Homo sapiens: one gene and its partners. The protein of the gene in region 4 purifies or fractionates together with the protein of the main gene of each other region. This does not show direct contact. Each region holds a gene or a part of one and is shown on either strand. Other genes may lie near its edges. The genes, in order: PLCG2, SCIMP, MYBPC3, BLNK, WDR81, MAP2K4 and PPP2R2C.

Region 1 (4,220 bases), on a different chromosome or scaffold from region 4:
TATCCTCCTGCAATATTCATGTAATTAAAAATTAATTTTAAAACTTTTTATAAGAGCTCCTCAGGGCAGGCAGGGGGGCTCTGGGGTGCCGAGGTACAGAGCCAAGGTCAGGTTCCGGCTCCTTCCACAGGGGACCCCTAAGCCTCAGCTTCCCGATCCACAGCATCGGGGATCCACAACCCGTCGCATGGGGAGCATTAGGATCATCGTCTATTAGCTTATTCAGGGTAAGCTGTCGGCACAGTGTCTGGCACTCAGGCAGGACTCAGTAAGTGAATGGTTTGGAAAACATAAATGAAATCAACCCACAACTAACTTCCCTGGGAGAAAAGAGAATCAGAAGGGGAGATGGGAACAGGTCTGGAATACGAGTTGCATCTTCCATCCTCCTGGAGCGTGGATGCCACGGCCACAGCCTGAGGTCTCAGCTTCACTGCCCAAGAGATGCCTTCCACCAATCACAGCCGGGCAACAACTCAACACTTCCTTTGTGGATTTGAAAGCAGGTGTTTCTCCTCTACTGGGGAAATCTATCCAGAAGTTCATTACACATCCCCAGAGCCCAGAACAGTGCCTGGCACAGGAGAGGCACTTTACAAATATGTAGAGGGCAAGGAGAAGTTGCTGCAGACCTGTGTTCCCCTACTGCCTGGTCCAAATTCCCCATCCGTTTCCCTGGAGAGCTACTCACCCTCCACCACCCTGCCTGACCAATCCCTTTGTAGCACTCATCACAAAATACTACACTGATTTCCTTATGTGCTCAAACCTCCTCAGTGCTTCTCAGTGAAGGACAGTGACGCTTCACCCCATACCCTGACCAGAGAGGGTTTGAAAAAGTGTGTGTCCTGGGGCAGGGATGTTATTTTTGATTGTTACAATGACTTAGGGTCCCAGACAGACATGCAGTGGGTAGAGACCAGGGAAGTTCAACATCCAAATACAACAGGATCAGTCCTCACACCCCAACTCTTTGAGAAACACTGTGTGGACTGAGCTTCCCTGACAGTGGGCCATGGGGTGAGGTGGGGAGCGGCCATCCTTGCTGATTGATTCACTGAGCCAGCATTCACCAACCACCAACTACATCCCAGCCAATGTTACATAAGCAGGAACAGGTCAAAAGCAAGAAACACTTGGAGTAAGGCGATGTCTCTCATCCCTGCCAGACCATTAGCCTGAGAGAGCAAGGACTGGGCTGTTTTTATCACTCCTGCATCTCTGGAGCCCAGCACAGGGCCCGGCACACAGTAGGTGCTCACCAAACATCTATTAACTTCTAAAAAATAAAAACTTCCATTCTCAAGACACCTCCAATCTCATGGGGAAGACAAGCTCACAAACTGAATGGGGCGTGTATGTAAGTCAGGCAATCAACCTGAGGACCCACCCAACCTCTTCATTCACGCGGTCCCATTGAAGTGACCCCAACCCCATCCCCAGATGGCCTGTCAGAATCATGCCACCTGGCTCAGGGAGGGGGCCATCCTTTCTGCCGGACACTGTCCTGGCAGCCCAAGGTACAGCCACCTGAGACAGAAGCTGATGGAGAGTAACGCCAGCATGCACATACAGGTGGCATCCTGACCATCATCAGGTGAGGCCCCGATCCGGTTGTGTCAGAGCTGTCTCACCGCTTGGGCACCTCAGTTTCAGCCAGTTGGGTTTAGTTGCCATCATTTGCACAGGATGACAGCACAGTGGGAGTGCCAACACCCCACCTGGGGCCTGGCACACAGCAGGTTTTCAATCCGTGTGCAGCGGACTGAACACACCTCCTCCCCATCCAGGCTGAGGAGGTACCACTAAGAGGCTTAGGGGAAAGAGCAAAGGGCAGAGGCACCAATGCTGAGAAGCCCAGGTCACCCTCTTGGGAACAGAGAGTACAGAAAAGCCATGCTGGTGGGAGGCTGCTCTCTGGCTGGAGCCAGTACACAGTAGGTCCTCAGTAAACTATAGTGATAATGACCGTCACCACGGTCCCCAGGGAGGTGGCTCAGGCATAGTGGTGCAGGCAAGGAGGAAGGGAAATCCAAACGCCCAGGGGGCAGCCTGGCAGGGTCACCAGGGGATGGGATCAGGGCAGAGGGAATGGGGAGAGGAGTGGACAGGGGCAAACCACACACCCCACAGTAGCTGCCATGCAGCCAGCACCACCGCGCCCATGTGGAAACACAGGCCCAGAGCATCCACTGCCTCCCATTTTTCACAAGAAGCAATCTGAGTTTTTCAGTGAAATTTCTCAGTTTTTCACATCAGTGTACAAAAGACGCCCACAGGCCTCTGGCTGGAGATTTGGCCCCCAGGCCTCTGGCTAGAGACTCTGGAGTGAAGAGCTTAGGCTTTGGAGACGGACAGGCCTGCATCTGAACCTCAAACTCAGTTGACTATGAGGCTGTGTGACTCCAGGCAGGTCACTTAACCTCTCTGGTCCTGTTTCCTCCCTTGCAATAACTAGACCTACCTCTCACAGGCTGTAGCAAAGGATTCAATCAGATGAGGCCTTGAAGGCAGTCCAGTGTCTAGAACACGGTTAGGAACTCAACATATAGCAGACTGTTACCACCGTAAGAACATGCAGGGAAACCCTGGGGCTGGGGAGATGGAGGGACAGTAGGCTACACGGAGTCTGAGTCACTCCTCGGCTCCTTGTCATTAGTGGAAGTGGGAGAATCTGGCGTTTTGGGGTAACATTAGAGAACCACAGGCCTAGAGGTGGTTGGGCAGCAGCTGCAGTTGGGAGGAAACCAGATCTATATCATCACAGGCCTGGGCTGCCTGGGCTGTCTGGGCTCGAATCCCAGCCCCACCACTTAGTGGCTGCATGCTTCAGCAAGTTACTTAATCTTGCTGTGCCTCAGTTTCCTCCTCTGAGAAACACGGATCATGGTCATGTCAACCCCACAGAGTTACTGGAAGCCAAAGTGAGTTACTACAGAACATCCTGCCCTGGAGAACGCAGACTGTGCCTGGCACGCAGGAGCGCACATTCTCGCAGCGGCTTTTGCTGTGGTGGTTGTTGTTGTCGCTGATGCTGGGGGGGCAGGGCACTGCAGGTGAGCCTCCACCTGAAGTTCCCCCTTGTCTCTCCGCATCTGTCCTTGCCAAGCCCCTCTGTAGAGCATGTGCCTCCCACCCTCGCACCCACCTGAAGGTGATGGCATAGGAGTCGCTCCCCTCTCGCTTCCGGATCAGGAAGGCCCCGTCCCGGGGAATCCTCATCAGCATGTCCTCTGCCTCTCCGCGGCTCAGGCTGTCATAGTACCACCTGCGGCACAGGGCCAGGGAAAACGACCAGGTGAGCGGTCTCCAGGCTGTCAGTGGGCCACCCGCAGAGGACAAGATAATGGCACCAGTGACACCTGGAACCTGGCCCTGGAAACGACCATGGAAATCACACAGTGGGCTTCCCCAGACAAAGGCACCTCAGCAAAGAGAATTTGTGAAAAGAATAGTGGAAGACCCCAGGGGTCTGTTTCAAGCCCAAAATAATACATTGGGCCGAGCACAGTGGTTCACACCTGAAATCCCAGCACTTTGGGAGGCTGAGGCAGGAGGATCACTTGGGGTCAGGAGTTTGAGACCAGCCTGGCCAACACAATGAGACCCCCATCTCTATAAAAAATAAAATAGCCTGGGCACAGTGGCTCACGCCTGTAATCCCAGCACTTTGGGAGGCCAAGGCAGGTGGATCGCGAGAAGCCAGGAGTTCAAGACCAGCCTGACCAACATGGCGAAACTCTGTCTCTACTAAAAATACAAAAATTGGGCCAGGCGTGGTGGCTCACGCCTGTAATCCCAGCACTTTGGGAGGTTGAGGCGGGTGGATCATGAGGTCAGGAGATCGAGATCATCCTGGCTAACACGGTGAAACCCTGTCTCTACTAAAAATACAAAAAATTAGCCAGGCATGGTGGCAGGCGCCTGTAGTCCCAGCTACTCAGGAGGCTGAGGCAGGAGAATCACTTGAACCCAGGAGGCAAAGGTTGCAGTGAGCCGAGATCATGCCACTGCACTCTAGCCTAGGCAACAGAATGTGACTCTGTCCCAAAAAAAAAAAAAAAAAAAAAAAAAGGAAATACAAAAATTAGCCAGGCCCAGTGGCGTGCGCCTATAATACCAGCTACTCAGGAGGCTGAGGCACAAGAATCTCTTGAACCTGGGAGGCAGAGGTTGCAGTGAGCTGAGATCGTGCCATTGCACTCCAGCCTGGGAGACAG
Region 2 (4,663 bases), on a different chromosome or scaffold from region 4:
TTAGGCCACCTGCTTCTTTGTCCCATAAACGTCTCTAAACCCCATCTTCGAGGAAGTGGGTTTGAGACCTGTTTTCCCATCTCCTCACTTGGCTGCCTCATGAATAAATGCATTCTGTGCTGCAAAACTGGTCATCTTGGCGGGACGCGGTGGCTCACGCCTGTAATCCCAGCACTTTGGGAGGCTGAGGCGGGCGGATCACGAGGTCAGGAGATCAAGACCATCCTGGCTAACACAATGAAACCCTGTCTCTACTTAAAAAATACAAAAAATTAGCCAGGCATGGTGGCAGGCGCCTGTAGTCCCAGCTACTCGGGAGGCTGAGGCAGGAGAATGGCGTGAACCCGGGAGGCGGAGCTTGCAGTGAGCCGAGATTGCGCCACTGCACTCCAGCCTGGGCGACAGAGCGAGACTCCGTCTCAAAAACAAAAAAAAAAAACTGGTCACCTCAGTGATTGGCTTACTGTGCGATGAGCAGAATGGGCCTCATTTGGTATCAAGAGGAGGAGCTGATAGAAAATGCTCAGGGATGGGCTGGCAAAGACATTTTCAGAGCAGCGCCGTGTTATGTTCTGTGTGCAGTTGTTTGCGCTGATGCGTTACAAGCCCCTCTGGTGGTCCCCCGCTGAGTCTTTGGTAAAGTCTGCTGCATCTGCCAATTCTTTTGTGAGCAGATTTGTTCTAGGGGTGTGGGGGACTAAGAAAGGGGTGGAATATAAACAGTGCAGTGTAAACAGTGCAGTATAAACAGTGCAGTATAAACAGTATAAACAGTGCAAACAGTGCAGTGTAAACAGCGCAGTGTAAACAGTTTTACCCACAGAGGCTGCAGGCCCATTGCTGACCATGGAAAAAGAGGTGGGCTCCTCGGGAGTCCACAGAAGTCCTGGGGAGGGCTTTGGACTTCGGCAGGCCTGGAATGAGGGTTCGAACTAATCTCAGTCTAGATCTCGAGGGTCTGAGAGGCTGTAGAGAACATTTAGGCCGGTTGGCATGAGCAGTTCTTGCCCCAGTTCACCTCTAATTCCCCGACTGTTGCTGTTCATGCTAAGTGAGGCCTTGTTCCCACTCGTTCTTCTTCTTTTTTTTTTTTTGAGATGGCGTCTTGCTCTGTCACCCAGGCTAGACTCCACTGGTGCAATCTCAGCTCACTGCAACCTCTACTTCCTGGTTCAAGCTATTCTCCTGTGTCAGCCTCCTGAGTAGCTGGGATTACCGACACGCACCACCATACCCGGCTAATTTTTGTGTATTTTTAGTAGAGATGGGGTTTTGCCATGTTGGCCTGGCTGGTCTCAAACTCCTGACCTCAAGTGATCCACCTGCCTCGGCCTCCCAAAGTGCTGGGATTACAGGCGTGAGCCACTGAGCCTCGCTCCACTTGTCCTTCTCACTGATGTCAGCACCAGAAATGGCCATGTGGATAGTCACTGGCAACTTAAAACCCAAGTGTGCATGGGGAAGTGCACGGCAGGGTCATTAAAAGGAGTCCAGCCTCTCTTCTTCCCTTCTCTATACTTTCACTTCTGGAAAAGACCGGAAACCTTGCCTCATTCCTCTTTCTCCCATGGCCCCATCCCCACCCCGCTTCAGCCCATCAGCCTCCAAATGTAGTCCAAGTCCTCATCTCTGTACCTGGACCATTGCATTTTCGCTGGCCCCTAGCCCCCACTGGGCTCCCCACTGGCTGCCAAATACCAGTGTGACCCTGTCCCTTCCTTGCTTTAAGCCTCTCAGTAGTTTGTTTGTTTGTTTTTGAGATGGAGTCTTGCTCTGTCACCAGGCTGGAGTGCAGTGACATAATCTTGGCTCACTGCAACCTCCACCTCCCGGGCTCAAACGATTCTCCTGCCTCAGCTTCCCGAGTAGCTGGGGCTATAGGCGCCCACCACCATGCCCAGCTAATTTTTGTATTTGTAGTAGAGACAGGGTTTCACCATGTTGGCCAGGCTGGTCTTGATCTCTTGACCTTGTGATCTGCCCACCTTGGCCTCCCAAAGTGCTGGGATTAGAGGCGTGAGCCACCATGCCCCGCCTGCCTCTCAGTAGTTATTTACCACTGAAGCAGAGTGAAGCCTGTGCTCCACATTGCTTCATGGCCAAGACCTCAGGGACAAGTGGACACACCAGGCAGTGGGAGTGGATATGGCAAAGCCAAACCCAGATCTCTTCTCAAAATAATTTTCCAGAGGGCAAAAGCAGATGGCTACACCGAGAACTCACGCCAGCCCAACACACTTTGATCTCGAGGCCTCTGGAAGGGAAGGTGCCTAATGAACTACTGAAAGCCAGAGATGCAATGACAAAGGTACCAAGACTGGAGGTGATCCAGGTCTTTCATCCAAGAGCCCCAAGACGTAGCCTAAATTCATGCTACGGTAATCCCAGCACTTTGGGAGGCCGAGGCGGGCGGATCACCTGAGGTCAGGAGTTCGAGAGCAGCCTGGCCAACATGGTGAAACTCCGTCTCTACTAAAAATACAGAAATTAGCCAGGTGTGGTGGCGGGTGCCTGTAATCCCAGCTACTCAGGAGGCTGAGGCAGGAGAATCGCTTGAACCCGGGAGGCGGTGGTTGCAGTGAGCCGAGATCACGTCACTGCACTCCAGCCTGGGCGACAAGAGCGAAACTCCATCTCAAAATAAAATAAAAATAAATAAATTGACACAGTCAGTGCCTCGCTCCCACCCCCACCTCCAGCATAGCACCATGACAGTCTTCTCACATAACAAGTCCCAAAACACACCATCGGCATCCAGAAAGTGAGAGTAACTCGTTACAGTTGAGACCTCTCACTCCCGGTCATTATCTCATTTCAATCCAAGAGGTAGACTTCTTCATCGCCCCTGACATACACATGAGGAAAAGGCCCAGAGAGGTGAAGTGATGCCTCAGGTCACTCAGCCAGTTACCAGTAGAGCAGATCCTTCAATGCAAGTTTTTCTCCAACCCTACACAGCAGTCGTACCAGGGCCCCAGGCTGCAATCCCCTGGCCCAGTGCTGATCGGTGGCTCCCAGGGACACGCCCTGATGCCAGCGCTGGCAGATGTCTGCTGTGAAGAGAGCAGGAAACTGTCCCTTGGAAAGCTGAGATGCTTACCTGAACTGTGAAAGTATCCATATGTGAGCAGCTAAGGAGACAGCAGTGGCTGGAGTGCTGCAGCTCAGGCACAGCTGGTGAGAGGCATTCCTCACTCACAGGCCTTCACCCACTGCTAGAGACAGTGAGCCCCATCCTGACCACTTCCCCTTTCTAGTCAGCCCACGGGGCAGAGACCCTGGCGTCATCTCTAGGCAACCATCCCTTTTCCAGGGAAGCTCATGACCCACGGCTGTCCAGAAGCCAGAATCTTCTCACTGCCCCGTGTCGCTCCCGCAAGGCCTACCAGAGGACCCTCATGGTGTGGTAGGGGGTCCTGGCAGGGGCCAGGGGCCAGGGTGGAGACTTGGCAGTGGGGGTGGGTTTGGTGTCCCCACAGACGAGTTTGCCGTGAGCATTCCTGGATGTGGCAACCTCAGTCTCAAGAAGAGCGACAGGACGCCAGCTCCCATGCAGAGACAGATCCAGGTAAGAAACCAGCTCATGTGTGACAAACTCACCATCTCACCATGAAGGTGACTCTTGAAAGCTCCTGTGCACCTTGGAACTGCTGAGACATCTTCTGCTTGGAGGAGGCAAGGGACAGGCTTCCTGTTTCTAAAGGCGTGTGAGTGGCGACCTTGAGAAATGTGGCCAGTGGAGCATTTTGACTGAGTTGGGTCCCCTCGTGCAATACTGTGAGACAGAACTCCCAGCGAGGCCCACGGCCTCTGACCATGGGGGTTGGAGTGGGGAAACCAATTAGCCATTTTGTTGAATTGGCTGGTTCTGACTCAAATGAGCAGTCACATTAGTAAAAATAGGCAAACGGATGTGCATTGTATTTGCCCAGAGCGAATGAGTTGTTATCCATTTCAGTAATAATGATAACCAGATATGTCTGATAAATATCTGATAATGTCTGATATATGTCTGGTAAATTTAACAAACACCGGGCTCTGGCTGGGTGCGGTGGCTCACACCTGTAATCCCAGCACTTTGGGAGGCCAAGGCGGGTGGATCACCTGAAGTCAGTAGTTCGAGACCAGCCTGGCCAACATGGTGAAACCCCATCTCTACTAAAAATACAAAAATTAGCTGGGCATTTTGGTGTGAACCGGTAGTCCCAGCTACTCAGGAGGCTGAGGCGGGAGAATTGCTTGGACCCGCGAGGTGGAGGTTGCAGTGAGCCAAGATCACACCATTGCGCTCCAGCCTGGGCAACAGAGCAAGACTCTATCTCAAACAAACAAAACAAAACATCTGGCTCAGAAGATTCCTGATTTGCAGTGTTTACTAATTTCTTTTTTCTTTTTCTTTCTTTCTTTCTTTTTTTTTTTTTTTTTTGAGATGCAGTCTCACTCTGTCGCCAGGCTGGAGTGCAGTGGCTCAATCTCAGCACACTGCAACCTCCGACTCCCAGGTTCAAGCAATTCTCCTGCCTCAGCCTCCCAAGTAGCTGGGACTACAGGTGTGTGCCACCGCATCCGGCTAATCTTTGTATTTTTAGTAGAGACAGGGTTTCACCATGTTGGCCAGGCTGGTCTCGAACTCCTGACCTCAAGTGATCCACCTGCCTCGGCC
Region 3 (4,694 bases), on a different chromosome or scaffold from region 4:
TGAGAAGGTGATGCTGCCACCTGCAAAGGCAGGGGCGACAGGCCCGGCTTGGGGAGTGTCCTGCTGCCCCCCCTTCCCACCCCAATGCTGGGCACAGCAGCTCACACTCACCCACGGTCACCTCGCCATCCTGTGGCCGCATCACGAAGAGGCCAATGGGGTCATCGGGGGCTCCAGGGGTAGGACCATTGAGAGCTGCTGAGCTTGACCCTGTGAGCAAAGGCTTTTTCTGTTTGTTTGAGATGGAGTCTTGCTCTGTCACCCAGGCTGGAGTGCAGAGGCACAATCTCGGCTCACTGCAAGCTCCGCCTCCCAGGTTCACACCATTCTCCTGCCTCAGCCTCCCAAGTTAGCTGGGACCGCAGGTGCCCGCCACCACGCCCGGCTAATTTTTTTGTATTTTTAGTAGAGATGGGGTTTCATCATGTTAGCCAGGATGGTCTCAATCTCCTGACCTCATGATCCGCCCACCTCGGCCTCCCAAAGTACTGGGGATTATAGGCCTGAGCCACCGCACCTGGCCCAGCAAAGGCTTTTGAGACCTGCCCTGGACACGCCCTACCCACGGATCCTGCCCCTCCCTGCCCAGCCCCTCTCACCTTTGGGACTTGGGGCACTTTCTCCCAGCTCAGCGGCTGGGGCCGGGGCTTCTCCAGGGGCTCCAGTGGCCTCAGCAGGGGCAGGGGCAGGGGCCAGCATGGGCTCTGCCTTCTCTGGAGGGGATCAGATGGGAGTCGTGGTGCAGCCACTAACCAGAGACCCCTCCACCCTCTCTCTCCTGAGCATTGGACCCATGAGCCCGCTGTGGATGAGGAAAGTCTGCCATGGCTGTCCTCCCGCTGCCTGGGCCCCTCAGAGGCAGCTCATGCTGAGCTGGAGAGCCAGCCTGCCTCTCACATTCTCCTCCCCGTCCCAGGCCATCAGTTCCCATGTCCTCTGCATCTGCCCTGAACAGCTCCAGGTCCATCCCTGCTCTGCCCCAGCCTTAGAGCAGCCCCTCAGACTGGGCTGCACTCCCCTCATCCACAGCTCCTGGGGCTTCCCGGCCGTCTGTGCAGGGTCATCTCCCCAGGGAGGTCTGCAGGGGGAGAGTGGGGTTGTGTCTTGTTCATCTCTCCCACCTACCCCATGGCTGGAACAAGCCAGGATGGCACATGGGGGTACTCAGAGAGGTCATGTGCAGAAAAGGGGGAAAGGGCGTTCCTGGCGGGGGGCACAGCCACAGCAAAGGCAAGAAAGTGTGAAAGCACCTCCTGTTCCCTGGATGGATGGAGAGTCGCTGGGCTGCCCCTCCCCCAGCAGCCCAAACCTCAGGGAAGGCTGATCAGGATCTTACCTGCCTCTATGACCTTGAGGTCGAACTTGACCTTGGAGGAGCCAGCAATGACTGCGTAAGATCCCTGGTCGGCAGGGCCCACTTCCCGCACTGTCAGCGTATGCCGTGTGCCCTCTGTGGCCAGGCCGTACTTGTTGCTGGCGCTGATGTCACTGCCTCCGCGCTGCCAGCGCACCTTCACTCCTGCCCGCTCTGTCTCGGCCTCGAACACGGCAGGGCTGCCTGCGGCCACTTCCACTGACCGTGGCTTCTTGCTAAAAGCTGAGACTGAAGGGCCAGGTGGAGGCTACAGCGGCCCCTGGTTGGAGCGTGCACCCCGCCCCTGCAGCCCCTCTCAGTAAATACTGTGCTAGCACTTTCTATGCATCCCCTCACGTAATACTCTACCAGTTCTCTGAGGTAGTTGCAGTTATTCTGTTCATTTCTCAGAGGAGGACACTGAGGCTCAGAGAAGCTAAGCGGCTCCTCCAAGATCACACAGCTAGCAGTCGGGAGAGCCAGGGCTGTGGTCCTGACCTCCCAACAAGACTTTTTCTGCATGTGTCCACTTTCCCTGCTTGGAGACACCCGTGATGAACCCAGCTCCCTTTCCCCCAACCATTTCGGGCCCTTGGCAGGGGGCGGGGAAGTCTGCCTACTTGGAATGTGGCCAAATTTGTCCTCCAAGGACCTCAGGCTGGGTATCAGCAACTGAGATAAAGCTGGCCTGGGAGGGCGCTGGGGGATGGGGACCTGGATCTCTGCCCTGGACAACCTTCATAAGGGCACAGCCCAGGCCCAGGTCCCTGGGCTGTGATTTTCCCTGCCCTTGGCCTGGGTTCAGGGGCTCCTGACTGTCCTCTCTCAGAGAAGAGGGGCTGTGTCACCCTCAACATGGGGGCCACACCGTACAGGCTCATGAAGCAGATAATGTCACAGCCAGGAGGAACCAACCCAATGCCACCACCACCCCCGGCACCCCAGGTTGGGAGACTGAGACCCATAGTGGGTAGAGACTGGTCTGAAGGCATGCCGTGAGCCTGGCTCAGCTCCATACTAAACGTGGGCTCTGTCCGCGGGGAACCTTGCTGTGGAAGGTGAAGGCAATGGGACAGGGAAGGGGTCCCTTTGCATTCTCAGAATGGGTTGACCCCGGGTGCTTCCTGTCTTGGCTGTGTCCCCTCTCTGCGTCCCTGACCTTGGGTTTACCTTCACCTCTCATCAGAGGGATGGGAAAAAGAAACCGAGAATCAAAAAAGGACCCTGGAGGACTGGCTGCCCCTGTCCTGGGGCTCAGAGGCCACGTCCTCGTCAACCCCCTCAAGAACTCCCTCCTAGCCCTGCTCCCCAATTGTAGACACCCCCCTGCTCCCACACTTAGACCCAACCCCAGTCCTAAAGCTACCTGGCTTCTTCCCCGGCTCAGGCATCCTGAGAGACGTCACACCAGGCACGAAGCAGGCACAGGTCACCCAAAGAGGGACTGAGTGGGGTCCTGTCCTTCCCACTATATATGGGGACCTCCCCCCTCCCCAGGCTCTGCTTATCTGCCTCCTGTCCAGCCACCTGCTAAATATAGATGAATTCCAGAGAGCTGAGGTCTCTCCAGGGAGAAGGTAGGGCCACATTGTCCCTGGCTGGCTCCTGTCCCTTCCCCCCTCACCCCCCGCAGCACAATTCTGCCTCCCCAACCTTTGGCAAGCCTCAGGGGTACTCCAAGCCCCGTGTGTGTCCCTCTTACAGCAAATTGTACGGTGGGAGCATGCTGGGCCCATAACCCTAAGGCTAACGGGTCAGGAGCATCCTCGCAGGCAGTTCAGGCAGTGGTCATGTCCACAGACCCTGGGGCCAGGGTGTCTCTGAGTCCTAGCACTGCCATCTCTTTAATCTCAAAGCACCTGGTTTCCTCATCTGTAAAGCGGGGTGGGTGAAAGCAGCACCCACTGCACAGGATTGTCACACGTATGAAGTGGGTTTATAATTTTAAAAATGTTAGGCCGGGTGTGGTGGCTCATCTGTAATCCCAGCACTTTGGGAGGCCGAGGCAGGCAGATTATTTGAGGCCAGGAGTTTGAGACCAGCCTGGGCAACATGGCAAAACCCCATCTCTACTAAAAAAATAAAAAATAAAATAAATACACACACACACACAAATTAGCCAGGTGTGGTGGTGTGGACCTGTAGTATCAGCTACCCAGGAGGCTGAGGTGGGAGGATCGCTTGAGTCCAAGGAGTTCCGGGCTGCAGTGAGCCAAAATCGCACCACTGCACTGCAGCCTGGGTGACAGAGTGATAATAATAATAAAAATATTATTTATTATTATTTTTTATTATTAATATCTCAAAGAATAATAATAAAAAAATAAAAATGGGCTGGGCGAAGTGGCTCACACCTGTAATCCCAGCACTTTGGGAGGCTGAGGCGGGCAGATCACTTGAGCTCAGGAGTTCGAGACCAGCCTGGGCAACATGATGAAACCCCATCTGTACAAAAAATACAAAAATCAGTCAGGCATGTGACGCACACCTGTAGTCCCAGATGCTCGGGAGGCTGAGGCAGGAGAATCACTTGAGCCCGGGGGGTCAGGGCTGCAGTGAGCCATGTTCGTGCCACTGCACTCCAGCCTGGGCAACAAAGTAAGACCCTGTCTCAAAAAAAAAAAAATAAAAATAGAAGAATGAAGACACAACACCATTTTGCCTTCTCTTGTGGCCCTGCAGTAGGACTAGGGAGCTGCAGGGTTGGGCTGCAGTGAGCCCTCTGGGGTTGAGGAGGTGTGGGGCGGGTATTTGTCCCTACGATAATGGCCCCAGAATCTGGGTTCCCTAAGGTCTTTGACAGCGTTGGGAAGTCCCTCACTCCCAGGCTGTCTACTGCCACTACTTGCTACCGTCTGGAGGAAAACACAGGACTTACAGGCTTCTCCGCTCAGCTTGGTCTGTTTCTCCCCTGCTGTGGCTAGGAGCTAGAAAGCAAATAGAACCTGGGGGTCCCACCAGGGATTCACTTGGGTCTAAAGTCCTGCTGGGCGTGCAGCTCGTGAGAACCCTTTGCGGCCCACAGGAGCTTTGGGGCTTAATTCCTGTCCTCGGAATGCTGAAGAGTATCCTCTTCCAGATAAGCAAGGCCTCCCACTCCATGTTGACGTGTCGGGACAGACCTGGAGTGTGATCCAACTTGGCCACTCAACGGCTGTGACCTTGGGGAAATAATTTGACCTCTACAAGCCTCAGTTTCCCATTCTATAAAATGGAGTGATATTAGACTCCACATCTCAAGGTTGGCAGATACTAATTGACCAGAATATCAAATGTTGTTGCTGGTCATGGTCATCATCATCATCATCATCATCATCATGAGTTCAAACCTCATCAAGGC
Region 4 (4,220 bases):
AACCATGTGGAACTGTGAGTCCATTAAACCTCTTTTTTTTTTTTTTTTTTTATGTAAATCACCCAGTCTTGAGTATGTCTTTATTAGCAGCGTGATAATGGACTAATACAAACCTCATATCAAGTTTAGGTTCTATTTGATAGACATGTAGATCAAAGAGGGTATAATTATCTTTAGTAAGCAAAACTAACAGCATAATCCTAGACAAGAACTTATAGAAAGTTCATATCCATATATATATATATCCCATGGTTGAGAGTGCTCACAAAAAGGAACCATTACATCCTTCTTGCCTATACTTACAGATATCATACATTACCTTTAATACCTTATTTTCTACAAATTAAAATTTTAACCAAGACTTAATTGTCAAGCATTGGCAGTGGAGAGCCCAGCTACATTAGTGTACCAATGATCATTGTGGAGGTTTAAATTTCCAGCCACTTTGTTTTATGCAAGAGCATTATTTTCTTATTTTGATAATATACTTTACACTTATTTTTAAAAATAAAAATATTTATTTGGAAAATATTAGTAGCATGATAACTCAACCTCACCAGATATTAACAGTTCATCAGGTCAGGCAATAGAACAAGTCCACATGAGCTTCTTAAAAAGAAATGGATGACCACTTCAATAGCTGACTCCATCTTCCATTTTATTACTGGATGATTCATAATCCAAAATATGAAGTTTTGGGACTTTTTCTCAAAAGGAGAAACTTTGGGAAAGTGTCTGAAGCAATGGTATTGATCTTTTTTTTCCCCCTTTATGAAACTTTAACTGCATACTTCAGTCTGGTGGAATCTTTTGTGTTATTCTGACTGTCAATAAGAACCAAAGGACTATGTTGATGATTCCTGATGATTTCAGCAACACTTCCAAAGTACTAGAGGAAGAAAACATAGATGAATTATACTTTGGCATTTGTGTTAAATTTGAGCTCCACTCCTCCCATCTTCTCTCATTCTCAAGTTAGTAAAAGTTATTACACCCCAGCTGACATTCTGCACAAAAAAATCTAGTTTAACAAAGGCTGTAACCTTCAAGGTGGCAGACCTTGGACTTTGCTGTATTAAGTACGAAGAAAAACACACTGACAGCCTCAATTAGCATAGCTACTTAGAGAGATTACTTCACTGAGTTATGATAAAATATTATAGTATATTGCTTTTTATTTACCGTTAAATGTAAAACTATCATACAACGCATTTTTCTACATTCTTTACAAAACATAGATCATCTCTTACTTTGCACAAGTCTCAGATACAAGAATTGATGTAATAAATTAACCTTAGAAATTTAGTACAAGGAAATAGTCATCTCCTAAACAAAATTATGTTTTGTTTTCTTTTTTAAACAAATAAAGAAAGCTTTATAAACCTTCATATTTCCATTTTTACTTGGTTCCTGGTAAGCTTAGAGTTAACTTAGTGCCTAATTAATAATGAAATTTCATGCTAGGCTCTCTCCATACATACTTATTTTTCCAAATTTTGATCCTTGTTGTCTATGGGTTTTAATTTAAAATTATCACAAATTTTGTTCTGAAAAATAATTAAAGTTTTGAAGGAAAGATAAAAACAAATGTAACACAGATCATGAAATTAAATTCATTGAGTATACAAAAGTGCTACAAGTTCACACTCATTAAATGTATTTAGAATCACTTTTTAAAAGTGGTGATTGTTTTACAACAGTGCCATGAGTTTAGCAGTTACTATCAATTGATTTTATTTTCTCGATTTTTTAGATAAAGACAAACATCCACAGTAAAATTTTTAAGTGTTTATTAATTGTTTGGATGACTTCCAAGTAGCTACATATTGAATAAAGTAAAATATTCAGAATATTGGCCAACATTTCCAAATGAAATACCAGTTGTCTTTTAGATAATTGGCTAGCTGAATATTCAGTCAGGGAGAGAGGTAAGAGACAGGGACTTTCAAATACCTTTAGTCTTTATTCTTTACTTCCTATTCAATCATTCAGCCATCTTGCAATTGCCAAAGAAATTCTTTCATTATAAATCCCATTAAACATTCATTCTGCTTGTTTGGCATAATATGTTGCTAAACCAAATGCAGTTGAAAGTTAAAGTTATGGACTCAAGGGCCAGAAAACGAAATAGCACAATCTCTTTGAAGTGGATTACAAGGGAAAAAGTGTGTCCTGAACCTAGGAAGCATAGGAGAGGATTGCTGTACTTATACAAACAAATATCTCATTCCGTCCCTCTAGTCCCTGAATATTTGTGAGTATTGCCTTGTTGTGGTGTTCGGGGATTGAAGTGTGTGCAGTAGGGAGTTGAGCTGAGTTGAAACATTTGAAGTAGGGAATGAAGTTGAAGAATATTTGTGATTTAATTTAAAAAAGAATTGGGCATAACATAGTTACAGCTTCCCCTCACTCTCCTTTTTTTCTGTTTTTATTAATTCAGTGTATTTGAGACAGATACATTCAGTGTATTTGTGGACAGAAAAACAACGTATTGGCCACTAAGATAAAGCAGACAGTTGTCAAAACTGTAAAATTACTCAATGTTGTATCACACAGTGCCAAAATAGCTGCATAAACAGTTAAATAGTTAATGAATTGGTTACTTTTTCTAGCCATGTACACACAAATACACACAGACTTTCAGAAAAACTCCACATGATTGACATCATGTAACCAACACTTTAATTTTCCATTCAGATGTTCAGTGTATAGGGGACATAATCTTTTTATTATAGATACTTTAAGTAAGAGTTTTAATTGACTGTCAGTACCTCCAGATGCTATTATAGTAATATATTACTTATTTTGGAATCCATAGGCTGAATATGTTGGAAGTGAGGTGAAGCTCTAGTCTATTCATTCTAAAGTGGAGATGAAGATTCATCAGGCCAAGAGGAATTCCTGTTTACCAGAGTTTCCTAGCAGGACAACGAAATCCAGAGCCCCTCAGGGAGTTCAAAATTTGTGAGAGAATTTCAGGACCTCGAAATAGGACAGCTTCTTCACCCACCCTTAAGCCTCTTATAGAAAAGCTAGACTGCTGGAGAAGCTTTAGGATGTTAAATGATAATGCGGTCTACATTTTAAAACCAAAGATTGGTCTTGATTAGTGCCCTTAGATTCAAGAGTTTTGCATTTTAAAATTATCTGAGACTTTGTTAAAAGCAAAATAAAATTCCCCAATATAAAAATTCTAGAAGAAAATGTAGGGGGGAAACACCATGACACTGGATTTGGCAATGATTTTTTGGATATGACATTAAAAGCATAGGCAAAAAAAGCAAAAATAGAGAAGACAATATCAAGCTTAAAAGCTTTTGCTCAGCAAATAACACAATCAACAGAGTGGAAAGGTAACCTATGGAGTGGGAAAAATATTTGCAAATCATTTATCTGATAAGGGGTTAATATCCAGAAACATAAAGAACTCCTAAAACTCAGCAACAACAAAAATCAAATAACCTGATTATAAAATGGAATAGACATTTCTCTGAAAATGACTTACAAGTAGCCAAAAAAGCATATGAAAAATGTTCAACATCACTAATCATCAGAGAAATGCAAATTTTTTTTTTTTTTTTTTTTGAGACGGAGTCTCGCTCTGTCGCCCAGGCTGGAGTGCAGTGGCGCGATCTCGACTCACTGCAAGCTCCGCCTCCCGGGTTCACGCCATTCTCCTGCCTCAGCCTCCTGTGTAGCTGGGACTACAGGCACGCGCCACCATGCCCGGCTAATTTTTGTATTTTTAGTAGAGACGGGGTTTCACCGTGTTAGCCAGGATGGTCTCGATCTCCTGACCTCGTGATCCGCCCGTCTCGGCCTCCCAAAGTGCTGGGATTACAGGCGTGAGCCACCGCGCCCGGCCAGAGAAATGCAAATTAAAACCACAATGAGCTGTCTATCACCTTACACCCATTTGGACGGCTACTATAAAACAACAACACAATTCAGAATATAACAAGTGCTGGTGGGGATGTGAAGAAGTTAAACCCTCGTGTGCTGTTGGTGGAACTGTAAAATGGTGCAACTGCTATGGAAAAAAGTATGGGAGGTTCTCAAAAAATTAAAAATAGAATACCCATATCATCCAGCAATCCCACTTCTGGGTATATACCCCCAAATAATTGAAAGCAGTGTCCTGGAGAGATTTGCACACCCGTGTTTATAGCAGCACTATTCACAATAGCCAAGAGGTAGAAGCAACACAAATGTCCACTGAT
Region 5 (4,220 bases), on a different chromosome or scaffold from region 4:
CCTTCCTGCTTCCATGGCCCGGCCAGGCTCCCATCCCCAAAGCAACCTCCTCTCTCTGCACAGTGCTGCTGACCCAATGCCACCTCCCTCTGTCTTCCCCGACACCATCCCTTTCCCCCTTTTAACCATATTTCTCCCTATGGTGACGCCAAAAAATAAGCAACCATTGACCAAATATCTGCTACACATGAAGCCAAAACCCTACATGTGTTATCTTCTTCTTTTTTTTTTTTTTGAGACAGAGTCTCGCTCTGTTGCCCGGGCTGGAGTGCAGTGGTGCGATCTCGGCTCACGGCAACCTCTGCCACCTGAGTTTGAGAGATTCTCCTGCCTCAGCCTCCTGTGTAGTTGGGAGTACAGGCACCCGCCACCACGCCCGGCTAATTTTTGTATTTTTAGTAGAGACGGGGTTTCACCATGTTAGCCAGGATGATCTCGATCTCCTGACCTCGTGATCCACCCGCCTCAGCCTCCCAAAGTGCTGGGATTACAGGCGTGAGCCACTGCGCCCGGCTGTGTGTTATCTTCTACGCCAGTTTTTCTGATTCTCAGTTTATAGATGGGAAAGGAGACGCTTCCAGCAGCAGGAACTTGCTCAAGGTCACTCAGCAAGTAAGCCGGTGGAGCCAATTCAGACTCAAGTCTAACAGATTCGAAGCCCTAACTGTTCTCCTAGGCGGCCTCGCTGGGTCTCCCCAAACTCCGCAGCATTACAGCCCCACCCTCGGGCCCCCTTCCTGGAGGCCTGGTGGGGCGCAGGAGCAGGAAGAGAACAGGCCTCACCTGGGCCCGCTCACCTGTGAAGGGGTCCCAGACGTGCACAGCCCCGTCACAGCTCACCACGTGCTGCGGGGCCTCAAGCTGGCCCACGAAGAAGACGCTCTTGCGGTGCTGGGTGTAGACGAGGCGTGGGGCCGTCTCGCTGGTCCCGTCGCCGTAGTTGTACAGCGGCCAGAGGCGCACGGTACGATCCTTGCTGCCGCTCAGGAAGAAGTCCTCGCTGCTTAGGGGTGCCACGCACTTGACGGCCCCCGAGTGGCCCGGGAAGCTCTGCAGGCGGATCTGGTGGAAGTGAAAGTGGGCATCCTGCTGGCTCACGCCGATCTCGTACTGCCAGTACGCCAGCCAGTTTCCGCTCAGCCCGTGCACGCTCCGCGGCAGCTCCTGCTTCAGGGCGTTGTCGTCGCTCCCGCTGCCCAGGCCCCCGCCACCCACCCCCGAGATGGGGCCCAGTGGTCCGGGGTTCTCAGGCCGAGAGTCATTGGGGATCTGAATGCGGTTCCCCACCAGGACGCTCCCAAAGGTCCCTGAGTGGCCGTCATCCTGAGGGCAGCCCCCACCATGGGGGTCCCACTCGGGCCCGGTGCCGGGCATGGTGGGCTCCACGCTGGCAGGGTTGCGACTGCTGGGGCTGATGCTCTCCAAGTACAGCGCCGCCAGCTCCCCAACCAGCTCGTGGTTGGGGATGATTTTCCGGATGATGTCACCTGGATAGGAGTGGGAGAGGTCCTGAGACAGGGAAGATGGCAGGCGGCTGCTATCACCCATCCAAGGACTCGGGAGCCACAGAAGATGGGGCAGGAACTGGCTCTGCAACTCTGGGCAAGTAACTCTGTCTCTGAGCCTCAGTTTCCTCCTCAGTGAAATGTGGATTCATTCCGTTGTGATGTACACATGAGCATCTTCTATATGTGCCGTGCCGTGCTGGGCACTAGGAATAGAATATGGAACAAGACAGGTGGTGCCCTGGCCTCCCAAGCTTAGATTTCAGTGGCAGGATGATAACAGGTGTAACCACAAGGCTGTCTGTCCTCTCCAGGGAGATGACACGCTGAAACGATCAGCACAGCACCGTGCAGGGCCCAGAGGGGAAGCTTCGTAAACAGGAGGCCACTCCTTCCCTCTCGCCAGCTCCTGCGGACCGCCAGTCCACCTCCCTGACTCTCCTGCCTTCCCCAGGGACACTACAGGCCAGCTTCTGGGCCTCTCTTGCTGGCTACTGCTCAGTCCTTGTTTGTGTGTCACCTTGGGGGTAGGGGTCTGAGGCCAAATCCCTTTGCTCTCACCCATCCTGCTGGCTCTTAGAACCCACTGCTGACTCTGGGGCAAGGGCAGAGAATGGGGCCTCCCAAGGGAGGAGACAGCCACGAAGACTGTGATGGGGAACGTGATGGGGCAGTACCCAACAGGCAGGAGAAGGGCACGTAGATTGTGTATGCCATCTCCAGGGTGAACACCTTCTGCAGCTCGTCCAGCAGGGCGGGGTCCACGGGCCGCTGCTGCCCATCAGAGAAGACCACCTGTGGCAGCTGGCCCTCACCACGGCCCGCAGGGTCCAGCTTCAGATCCTATGAGCAAGACACCCAGGGGGTCAGCCGGGTCCACAGCTCCCACCCTGGCCCACCCTGGTCCTCGCCACGGCCCGCGGAGTCCAGCTTCAGATCCTATGAGCAAGATGCCCAGGGGGTCACCCAGGTCCACAGCCCCCGCCCCAGCCCGCCCTGGCCCAGCAGATCTGCCCACCTGTTGCCGAAGCTCATGCAGCTGAGAGAAGACCTGGAAAAAGGTGGCCACGGGCTCGCTCAGGTGCTGCTGGACCATCTCCTGTCCAATGCGCAGGCAGATGAGGGCGATGAGGCTGATGGTTTTCACACACAGGATGGTCCGAGCCTGGGCCCCACTTGGGAACCTGGAAACAGAGCTCATGAGCTCCAGCCCGCCGTTCTGCAGGACTTGACCAGAATCTAGCAAAATCTTTATTTATTTTTATTTTTATTGAGATGGAGTCTTGCTCTGTCATCCAGGCTGGAGTGCAGTGGTGCGATCTCGGCTCACTGCAACCTCTGCCTCCCGGGTTCAAGCGATTCTCCTGCCTCAGTCTCCCGAGTAGCTGGGACTACAGGCATGAGCCACCATACCCGGCTAATTTTTTTTGTATTTTTAGTAGAGACAGGGTTTTGCCATATTGGCCAGGCTGGTCTCGAACTCCTGACCTCAAGCGATCCACCCACCTTGGCCTCCCAAAGTGCTGGGATTACAGGCATGAGCCACAGCACCCAGCATATATATATACTTTTTTTTTTTTTTGAGACAGAGTCTTGCTCTGTCGCCTAGGCTGCAGTACAATGGCGTGATCTCAGCTCACTGCAACCTCCGCTTCCTGGGTTCAAGCAATTCTCCCGCCTCAGCCTCCTGAGAACCTGGGATTGCAGCCTCCCGAGAACCTGGGATTGCAGGCACCTGCTGCCATGCCCAGCGAAGATTTTGTATTTTTAGTGGAGACGGGGTTTCACCATGTTGGCCAGGTGGGTCTCAAACTCCTGACCTCGTGATCCACCCGCCTTGGCCCCCCAAAGTGCTGGGATTACAGGGGTGAGACACCACGCTCGGCCTTTATATATATTTTTAGAGAGGGGGTCTCATTTTGTTGCCCAGGCTGGTCTTGAACTCCTGGGCTCAAGCAATCTTCCCGCCTCAGCCTCTCAAAGTGCTGGGATTACAGGCATGAGCCACCGTGCCCGGACATATCAAAAGCTTTAAATGAAAGAGCTCCAAGACCAACTGGTCCAAACCAGATGAGGAAACTGAGGCACAGGAAAAGGGTGTGGTTTGCTCAGGGTCACACAGCCGGGATCAAAACCAGGACTCTTGACACCCAGTCCAGTGTTACGTCCTCTCCCCTGAGCTTCCCACCCCCTCCTGGGCAGCCCCTCCGCTGGGCCGGTCCCCCTACATCAGCTGGGGCAGAGGCCTACCCCGTGACGAGGGAGGTGAGGAAGCTGAGCACGGGCAGCAGGACCTCATGGCTGATCCGGGGCAGGATGTCCATGAGTGTGGTGTCTGAGAGGTACACGATGATCTTCTGAGTCAGCGTCACCGCGGCCAGCAGCCCCGCCTCCTTACGGCTGTTCAGTCGGCTGGGGCCTGAGGCACTCCCTGGGGCCACCTAGAGCCACCGAGCAGATGAGGGCCGGGCAGCCCCACAGACCCCCTGGCACCAAGAGAGCCCGGGCCGGCCCTCAGGTCCTCAGCCTTCCCAGCCCCGGGCCTGCCAAACCAGCGACTGACCAGGTAGCTGATGTAGGGCAGGTACTGGTAGGTGAGGACAGGCTCCCCATACAGGCGGGCGATGTGGAGGAGGCAGCTGAGCACAGGCCCTGACACGATGTCGCCCAGGACCGGCCTCTTCTGGTAGATGTTGCCGGCGCTCAGCGGTGGGC
Region 6 (4,220 bases), on a different chromosome or scaffold from region 4:
ATATGCTTTTCTAAATGTAAATAAATAAGTAGACAGATATTTATGCAGATACTACCCAAGAGAAACCAGCAATCAAGTAATTCTGGGAGATAAATTACATATACATTTTTATCAATTTATCCTTAAGTTTTAAAAAAGTTTATACTCTGTATCTCAATATGTTCTTTGGTCCAAAAGTTTAAAACAATATAACTTCACTGAAGACTACATCAGTATATAAAAATGTCTGCTCTGTTGACATTTTCTCCTTGAATTCTACCTTGCCTAATTAAAGCTGCCAAAAGTATTTTCATTTTGTTTATATTTACCTCATCTATCTTGGCCCATATCTTAATCACCATTCCCTTCCAACCTCAATTAATATTTTACTATCAAACATGAATTAATATGGGTAACATAGTTCACCTCTTTCTAAACTCATTGCTGTTTTCCATATCCCACACCTTCTGTAACAGATACTGCAATGTGCTATGTAGATTCCCTCTTTAAGAAGGAAGGACTTATTCTTCCACTGTGGGGCAAGCCGCCAGCAGACAACCCTTTACTATCGGCCTCTTCAGGATTACCACAGCTAAAGACAGCCACCTTAGCCCTCCTGGGACAGTCCATCTCTAATGACTGATCCACAAAAGTGAATAAAAATCCAAGACCCTCATTCCAAGGCAGGTCAACACAGAGTTGGCTGAGGCCTTCAATGACATGGCACTGCAACTGAACTTCTTCTGCCCAATCTCGTTTCCTTCTCATTGGTAGTGTTGATCCCAAGATCACTACCTAGTCAACTTCCTACACTCTTATCTCTGTCTCAAAAGCCTGCTTTCCAGGCATCCAACCTGTGACATCCTTCTTCTGGGTTAACTTCTCTTCTTGGTCAAGTACAGATGGCCCTTGAGCAACACAGATTTCAACTGTACAAATCCACTTATACATGGATTTTTCTTCTGCCTCTGCCACCCGAGATAGCAAGACCAACTCCTCCTCTTCCTCAGTCTATTCAATGTGAAGACAAGGATGAAGATCTTTATGATGATCCACTTCCACTTCATAAATAATATATTTTCTCTTCCTTATGATTTTCTTAATAACATTTTCTTTTCTCTAGCTTACTTCATTGTAATAATACAGTATATAATACATATACAAAATATATGTTAACTATGTTATCAGTAAGGCTTCTGGTTGACAGTAGGCTATTTGTTAGTAGTCAAGTTTTGGGGTAATCAAAAGTTATATGCGGATTTTTGACTGTACAGGGGGTCAGCATCCCTAACCTCCACACCATTCAAGGATCAAAGCAGTCTATAAATTGTAAGTGCTCAGTCTTCCCATTCCTAAAACTGTATTTCTTCCTTACTGTGAATATTTGAGTGTCTGAGTCTAAAACTTTAGGACCAGGCTGACAATTATTTTCCCTCAGCACTCTGGTGCTGTGACTCCACTTTTTCCTGCAACTATTGTGGCTGGGAACAAATCTGCTGTTAGTCTTATTATCAATCCTTAACAGATAATCTGTTTTCTCTTCCTGATATTGCTCGGTAATTTTGCTTCAATACATAAATGATGATAAACAAAGGTATAAATTTAAAGGTAAATTTAAATATAAATTTAAAAGGTAAATTTATACCTTTGTTTATCATTTATGCACTGAAGCAAAACTACAGAATATCAATTAAAATTTACTTTTAAATTTATATTTAAATTTACCTTTAAGCTTATACCTTTGTTTATCCTACATGATAAAGAGACTTCACTTTCAATCTGAAAACCTATACTAAATCAGTTCTCAAATGTTTTCTTTCCCCTATGATCTCTGTAAACATTGCTTCTCCACTTTCAGAGTTGCCTTCTTTATTTCCATTACATGCATCTTAGAACCTCTAACTCTGCAATCTGTTCTGATTCTTCACTGCTTTTCATATAATCTGTGCCATGCTGGGGGAACGTCTCAGCTCCTATTTCCCTAATTTTGTCTTCAATTATTTCCAGTCTAGAGAACATCAAGTCTGTTGTGTCTTTTATATCAACAGCTATGATTTTTCCATTTCCAAGACTTCTATTTCCAACCACTTTATTTCTTCCTCAGTTTTAATTGAATTTATACCTTTATTTCCTTGAGCATCCTAAATATACTGATTTTCTTTTACAGCATATTTCAGACAATTTCATAAATCTATTTCAACTTAAAGTAAGTTTCTGTTCCATTTTGTTAAATGCTTTCTTAGCATTACACTTCAGTATTCAAGAATTATGATTTGCAGACTCATTTTGAAATAACATGTTTACCCTCCATGCATATCCATTCATTTGTTCAACATATGTCTGAGTGCCCCACTAATCACTATGAACTGAACTGGGAGCCAGGGATACACACATAGAGCAGTTTTACAGTTGCCTCTATTTCACAGGGCCACCAGTATCAAACAGGGTCCTGTAATGGACCTTTCAAGTTCCACTCCTATGTTGGTATTAGGACAATTACAGTTCCAGTCCTCTGGTTGCAAAACCAGTATCTAAAGCCTTGTCATTGTGTAGTACCATAGCTTGCTTAAAGCTGTGGCCCAGGAAGTAACTGATATCATTTTTTTCATTCTCCAGAATGAAAAATGACCTGGAATACAGCAAGTCCATGGCATCAGATCTACACAGCATTCTGTCAGTATTTTTGTTGCATTTTTTCACCCACACAGAGGTTTGCTTTCTTTGTAAAGCTGCCATACCTTTCTGGTTTTGTGTTTTTCTATTTCATCTACTGGAGCAGAAAATTATGTCAGTGTATAAACTTATGATGCTATTTGGGTTGAAATCTTAAACTATTAACATTGACTGTCTTCTTTTTCTGAATTACAGCTGACACTAATAATGTTATCAATAATTATATTAGCTCCCCTTAGACTATCTAATAAGGTAGCCGTTAGCAAACTTAATTCCAATAAAAAATGCATTTCCTTAGTTACATTAGCCACATTTCAAATGCCAGCAGCTACCACACTAGACAGAGCAGATTATAGGACATTTCCAGCATCTCAAAAAGTTTTATTGGGAGAGCTTCAGCTCTGTCTTCTAGTTCATTAATCTCTCTTCAATGATATCTAATCTGTTGAATGCAGCTATTGTTTTAATTTATGCTTTTTATTTCTAGAAGTTCTATTTGGTTCTTTATAAATGTGTTCCCTGCTTATATTTCTAAGCTGCCTCTTTTTCTTTAAACTTATTTTTTGTTTCCTTTCATTCCAATATTTGAAGCCTTTGCAGATCTATTCCTACTATCCATTGTTTCTGATTCTCATTTCTTTTGTGAGTGTTGAGATTTTTTTGTGGACTACATATTCCACTTGACTTTATTTTTTGGAATCATTTAGTCCTAGGCTGAATGATTTGCTTTTGCTTCTGCCCATCAACTGGGGGCAAGAGGAGCATATCTTTCCAACCAGGGACTCTGAAAAGTAATTTTTCTTAAAATTAAATTCTCTAAGTATTTTTACCATATTCAATATGAATTTAGATGGCAAATCTACATTTGCTTGGGTTATCCTTTAATTTACTTTGACTCTTCCTTCTCTCCCATAATCTCCCTCCCTGAATTTCAGTCAACTTCAGAGCTCCATGGATTCCTCAGTTTTGCACCAACTCTTTTACATTTTAAGAGGGACTTTAGGTGGGGCACGATGGTTCACCCCTGTAATGCCAGAACTTTGGGAGGCTGAGGCAGGCGGATCACCTGAGGTCAGGAGTTCGAGACTAGCCTGGCCAACGTGGCAAAACCCTGTCTGTACTAAAAATACAAAAATTAGCTGGGAGTGGTGGTGCGTGCCTGTAGTCCCAGCTACTCAGGAGGCTGAGACAGGAGAATCACTTGAACCTGGGAGGTGGAGGCTGCAGTGAGCCAAGATCATGCCACTGCACTCCAGCCTGTGCGACAGAGCCAGACTCTGTCCTAAATAAATAAATGGCACTTTAAAATGCTTATCCAGGCCAGGTACAGTGGCTCACGCCACTGTAATCCCAATACTCCGGGAAGCCGAGGCAGGAGGATCGCTTAAGCCTAGGAGTTTAAGACCAACCAGGGTAATACAGTGAAATCCAGTCTCTACAAAAATTTTTTTAAGAAATTAGCCAGGTGGGCCAGGCGCAGTGGCTCGCGCCTGTAATCCCAACACTTTGGGAGGCCGAGGCAGGCGGATCACCTGAGGTCAAGAGCTGACCAACCTGACCAACATGGA
Region 7 (4,220 bases), on a different chromosome or scaffold from region 4:
GGCCTGGGTTTCAGGCCCAGCTTTGACACTTGCTGGCTGTGAGCTTTGAGCAAGTTAACTTGAGTGCTCTGTGACTCAGTTTCCTCATCTGTAAAGGAGACTTAGAATAGTACCTACCTCATAGGGTTGTTGTGAAGGTGAAATGAGTTAAAATGAATGCTTGTTGATGTTAGTCACAGAGCCTGGCACACAGAGTCTCACTGTGTGTTATTATAATTATTATTATCATTGGTTGTATGCAGAATAGTGACATCACAGCAACCTGCCTGCCCGCCCACCAGCCCCCCGGCAGGCCAAGCCTCGCCCTGCCTGCAGGCTGGTGCTCATGTCATCACCAGCTCTCTTCCCAGCAGTCGGCGGGAATCGTCAATGCTGCTGCTTCCCCTAGCTTGCCCTGACACAGGAGAACACCGAGCAGGGGGCCCTCAGGACCCCAACCCAGCTGGGCTTCTGACACCCTGGTTGTCACCCGAAGCCCTGGCCGGGGCCCCAGTGCTGGTCCTCCTATGCTAACACAGCCTGCCTTGGGTCCCAGTGGGGAGGGCCCCGAGGCGCCTTCAGTGGACGCTGAGCAAGGCCAGCAGTCCCTCGTCCAGAGCAGCTGAACCCTGAACTCTGTCTCCTTCCTGGCCCCTTGTGAGGCCCTAGGATGAGGGGATCATGGCCATGCTGGAGGAGGCGATGGGTGCAATGCTCAGCAACCACGACTTTGCGGTTTTCAGAAACAGACGTGACATGATTTTGTATCTGGGCCTCACACGCATACTAGGAGCCAGAGGTGCCTCACTGAAGAAGTTAAACAATGCAGCCATCCCCAAACCAGCTGTCTGCCAATCAAACCAAACCCACCACCCAACGGAAGCTACTCTGCCCGTGGGAGGCACTGGCCAGGCCACAGTGAAGGATACTGAAGCTCCTGTCGGTGATGGCCAGGTGCCAGAGGTTGATGCGCAGGTCATCCGCCGACATGTAGGTCTCGCAGTCACTGTTGACGGAGATGGAGTTGATGTGGTAGGTGTGGCCATTGGCAAAGATCCTCCGAGGGCTCACCTCCACCATCAGATCCATGGGCTTCAGCACTGGCACCTGCAGAGGATGAGGAGGCAGGGAAGAGGTGAAGGCCAGGTGGTGGCATCAGGACATAGCATGCCGTGAGCATGTGATCCCAACCGGAGGCTGGAACACAGGGGTGGGCGTCCATCCTGATCCTCCGTGGTCTGAAATAGGCAGTGACAGATGGCAAATGCCCGCCGCCCACCAGCCCTGCAAGAGAGGCATGGATGCTTACCTGCTGTGGGTCTGTGAATAAGTGGCTGAACCCTCCTATACCCCAATTTCCTCAACTCTAAAATGAAACAAAAAGATACTGTGGCAGAGCCAGCCAATTGTCTGCCAGGCCTCCTCACCTCCTCCTGCAATGCAGTGCTGTCACTGGGAAACAGCTGTCTACATGTGGACTACATTTCCCAGCAGCCTTTGTGCCCAGACATGGCCACATGACTAGTTCTGACCAATGGGATGTGAGCAAAGTGATACCTGGCCCTGATGCAGCTAAGCAGCGGGAGCACCTTCCCCACCTGGAAGGTGAGGACCCAAGCCTTAGGGACTGAGACTCATGGGATGGGGATGGAAGGATCCTGCAGGAGAGCTGTGTCCCAACCAGCACATCCACATCGAACCTTCCCATAGTGAGAAATGCATTTCCGTGCTCGGCCCTGGACTGCTGGTGTTGTTTTGTTACAGCGGTGGAGTTAGCCTGACTCATACGAACTTTCATCTCAGACAGTTGGTGCGAGGAGTCCTTGCCATGGCATCAGACACTGAGCTTTCACAGCCCTGAAGGTCCCTTGCACAGCCCTGACCAACCCTGAGGCTGTCAACTGGTCCCATCAGCTTTCCCAGTGGACTAGGGATCAGCTACGGGAGCAAGGCGTCACCTCTTGTTTATCTCTCCATCTCTCTAGCGCTCAGTCCAAGGCCTAGCAGAGAGACTCTCCAGTGAATGAGTGAATGTGTGAGAGAATGAATGAATGGGCTGTGTCCCTGAGCTCTCAGGGAACAGCTGAGATGGGAGGTGACAGCCTCGGTGCTGCAGTCGGAGTGACAAGCACTGAGCTCCTTTGGAGCAGAGGCAGCTCTGCAGCCCACGTTAAATTTTCCCACACACCAGGGCACCCAGCCTGTGTGTGTGGGAGTGTGCATGGCTGAGAGTTCATGTATGAGTGTGTGCATATGAGTGTGCATGTGAGTGTGCATGCATGACTGAGTATACGTGTATGTGCATGCATGTGTGTGTGTGTGTGTGTGTGTGTGTGCACGCAGCACCGGTGTGAGTGACAGCCTGGCTCTGGGTGGTTCTTGCATTGTTGCCTCTGTGTCTTTGCTTCTAGGTTGTGTGCCTGGGAGTTGGTGTTAGTGTGACTCCTCCAAGGCATCCTCCCTGCACGTATTCCTGTGTCAGATATTTTAGCTATGCTGCTAACCTTCCCTTCCTTCGGGGTGCAGCCACTGCCCACCCTGGGGATCCCTGGACTCTCAGGAGAGAGAGGGAGCCCAGCTGCTCTGGAGAAGGGCAGAGCATCACTGGCCCAGCAAAGTCTTGGCATCTCAGTCCACCTCCTGCTTCCTTCCGGCAACATTGCTTTCTGTTTTCTCCAGGCGGCCTTGGGACCCAGTTCATCCAGTGCTCCAGCCATTTGCTGCCATCCACCAAACCAGAGCTCAAAACCAGTTTTTTAGTAAAGAGAAGAAGAGAGAAAGGAAACCTTCCCTGAAGGTTTGGGGGTTTCATGAGTAAAACATGCTGCCTCCGCAGAAGCCACAGTCTAGTCAAGATGAGGGGCAAGGAAGATACAGACACTAAGGACAGACAGTGTCGGATCCAAAAGGCAAGAGGGGACACAGGAAAGATCACAATTGTCATCTGGCCTGCGCAGAAAGGCTTTACAGAGGTGAAGGCCAGTAGGGTTTTATGGGATGTATGGGAGTTCACCAAATTGACAAAGTAGAGAAAGGCCTCCTGGGGTGCCCACGGCCTCTCTGTGTTCCTCTGTCACCGCACTGAGCGCCAGTGTGATGGCGATTCCATGTCTGTTTCCTTGGGGGCTGGGGACACTTTGGGGACAGGTACTGAGTTGAACCTTGCTCACCTCTAGGGCCCCAAGGGCTAGCCCGGGGCCTAGCGTGGAGCAGCTCCTCAGTAAACAGCTGCCTCCAGTGTGAACTGCGCAGGGTGGGTAGAATGCTGTGCAGGGTTGGCGTGGCGTGGGTGAAATCGGAAGCAAACAAGGTGAGAGGCAGGATGAGGACAGACCAGGGCACCCAGGTTCTCAGTGACAGTTAAGTGTCTTGGGATGTGTGTGACTTACAGAGAAAAATCTCCAACGCTGGGAGGGACATAAACAGGATTTTTATGAAGGCCACTGGCTCTGCCCCAAACACCAGGGTGATCAAGATGTGATCGCTGTATCCTTCCCTCTAGATGAAACCCTCATAAACTTTCTTGGGACGGGGGGTGGGGCAGGGGGCACCAGCACCCTCATTACTCAACATCGAAGCTAATCGGCTGCCCACTTCCTCAGAATTTATTTGTGCAATTTGCCAGTCATTTAGGCCAATGTATTTAAACATTTATTTCTTCTTCTCAGGAAGAGCACTGACTACTGCTTTATATTTATGGCGGCTCACTGGATGCTGGGCACGTGTGTGTCTGTTTCAGGGTATGTCTGTTTCAGGCCTTTGTAGATGCTGAAGGCCTCACACGGTCCAGGCTTCCTTCTGCCCTCAGTAAAGGACTCAGGAGCCACAAAGCTCTGCTGACCCATTCTCTTTCTGCCTCTGCCTACTCACTCAGCTGAGCAGTTTTAGGTGAGTTGCTGTCTCTCTCTGGGCCTCAGTTTCCCCCTTCTTATAACAAGGGATTATCTGCCTTGCTCTCCACCCTCAGCTATAGGTGAAAAGCACTTTACAGCCATACACCACCCCTGCATGCTCACAAGAAGCCTAGAAGAAACGTGGTCATCTGTATGCTGCTGGTGAGGAAACTGAGGCAAGGGGCAGGAAGACGCCCGTGGCCGCCCAGCAGCCAGCAGCCCAACCAGGGTCTGCACCTGACTCTGGCTCAAATCTCAAAGGCTTTTCCAGCCCTAAAATCCTCAGGTGTAATAAAGAGGCGTGTGCCTGCTTCCCCCTCACCGGAGCTCACCTGCAGTGACGTCACC

Evidence for each region.
Region 1: the proteins of BLNK (region 4) and PLCG2 purify together in Homo sapiens (affinity purification with western blotting; one study listed by BioGRID and IntAct). This does not show direct contact.
Region 2: the proteins of BLNK (region 4) and SCIMP purify together in Homo sapiens (co-immunoprecipitation; one study listed by IntAct). This does not show direct contact.
Region 3: the proteins of BLNK (region 4) and MYBPC3 purify together in Homo sapiens (affinity purification with mass spectrometry, with the first as the bait; one study listed by BioGRID). This does not show direct contact.
Region 5: the proteins of BLNK (region 4) and WDR81 purify together in Homo sapiens (affinity purification with mass spectrometry, with the first as the bait; one study listed by BioGRID). This does not show direct contact.
Region 6: the proteins of BLNK (region 4) and MAP2K4 purify together in Homo sapiens (affinity purification with western blotting; one study listed by BioGRID and IntAct). This does not show direct contact.
Region 7: the proteins of BLNK (region 4) and PPP2R2C purify together in Homo sapiens (affinity purification with mass spectrometry, with the first as the bait; one study listed by BioGRID). This does not show direct contact.

Annotation. Positions count from the first base shown.
Region 1 is NC_000016.10:81,911,645-81,915,864, reverse strand, and holds part of PLCG2 (1-phosphatidylinositol 4,5-bisphosphate phosphodiesterase gamma-2), read right to left. Parts: intron 3,269-4,220; coding exon 3,149-3,268; intron 1-3,148. UniProt on the Homo sapiens protein: The production of the second messenger molecules diacylglycerol (DAG) and inositol 1,4,5-trisphosphate (IP3) is mediated by activated phosphatidylinositol-specific phospholipase C enzymes. It is a crucial enzyme in transmembrane signaling.
Region 2 is NC_000017.11:5,231,635-5,236,297, forward strand, and holds the start of SCIMP (SLP adapter and CSK-interacting membrane protein), read right to left. Parts: upstream 3,227-4,663; 5' UTR 3,122-3,226; coding exon 3,101-3,121; exon of another isoform or gene 2,959-3,100; intron 2,309-2,958; exon of another isoform or gene 2,190-2,308; intron 1-2,189. UniProt on the Homo sapiens protein: Lipid tetraspanin-associated transmembrane adapter/mediator that acts as a scaffold for Src-family kinases and other signaling proteins in immune cells.
Region 3 is NC_000011.10:47,349,903-47,354,596, forward strand, and holds the start of MYBPC3 (myosin-binding protein C, cardiac-type), read right to left. Parts: upstream 2,801-4,694; 5' UTR 2,746-2,800; coding exon 2,721-2,745; intron 1,604-2,720; coding exon 1,337-1,603; intron 714-1,336; coding exon 600-713; intron 211-599; coding exon 112-210; intron 21-111; coding exon 1-20. UniProt on the Homo sapiens protein: Thick filament-associated protein located in the crossbridge region of vertebrate striated muscle a bands. In vitro it binds MHC, F-actin and native thin filaments, and modifies the activity of actin-activated myosin ATPase.
Region 4 is NC_000010.11:96,191,204-96,195,423, forward strand, and holds part of BLNK (B-cell linker protein), read right to left. Parts: intron 890-4,220; coding exon 770-889; 3' UTR 1-769. UniProt on the Homo sapiens protein: Functions as a central linker protein, downstream of the B-cell receptor (BCR), bridging the SYK kinase to a multitude of signaling pathways and regulating biological outcomes of B-cell function and development.
Region 5 is NC_000017.11:1,730,794-1,735,013, reverse strand, and holds part of WDR81 (WD repeat-containing protein 81), read right to left. Parts: coding exon 4,069-4,220; intron 3,947-4,068; coding exon 3,756-3,946; intron 2,690-3,755; coding exon 2,524-2,689; intron 2,349-2,523; coding exon 2,183-2,348; intron 1,488-2,182; coding exon 798-1,487; coding exon of another isoform or gene 784-797; intron 1-783. UniProt on the Homo sapiens protein: Functions as a negative regulator of the PI3 kinase/PI3K activity associated with endosomal membranes via BECN1, a core subunit of the PI3K complex.
Region 6 is NC_000017.11:12,135,284-12,139,503, reverse strand, and holds part of MAP2K4 (dual specificity mitogen-activated protein kinase kinase 4), read right to left. Parts: intron 1-4,220. UniProt on the Homo sapiens protein: Dual specificity protein kinase which acts as an essential component of the MAP kinase signal transduction pathway. Essential component of the stress-activated protein kinase/c-Jun N-terminal kinase (SAP/JNK) signaling pathway.
Region 7 is NC_000004.12:6,371,615-6,375,834, forward strand, and holds part of PPP2R2C (protein phosphatase 2, regulatory subunit B, gamma), read right to left. Parts: coding exon 4,205-4,220; intron 1,087-4,204; coding exon 909-1,086; intron 1-908. UniProt on the Homo sapiens protein: The B regulatory subunit might modulate substrate selectivity and catalytic activity, and might also direct the localization of the catalytic enzyme to a particular subcellular compartment.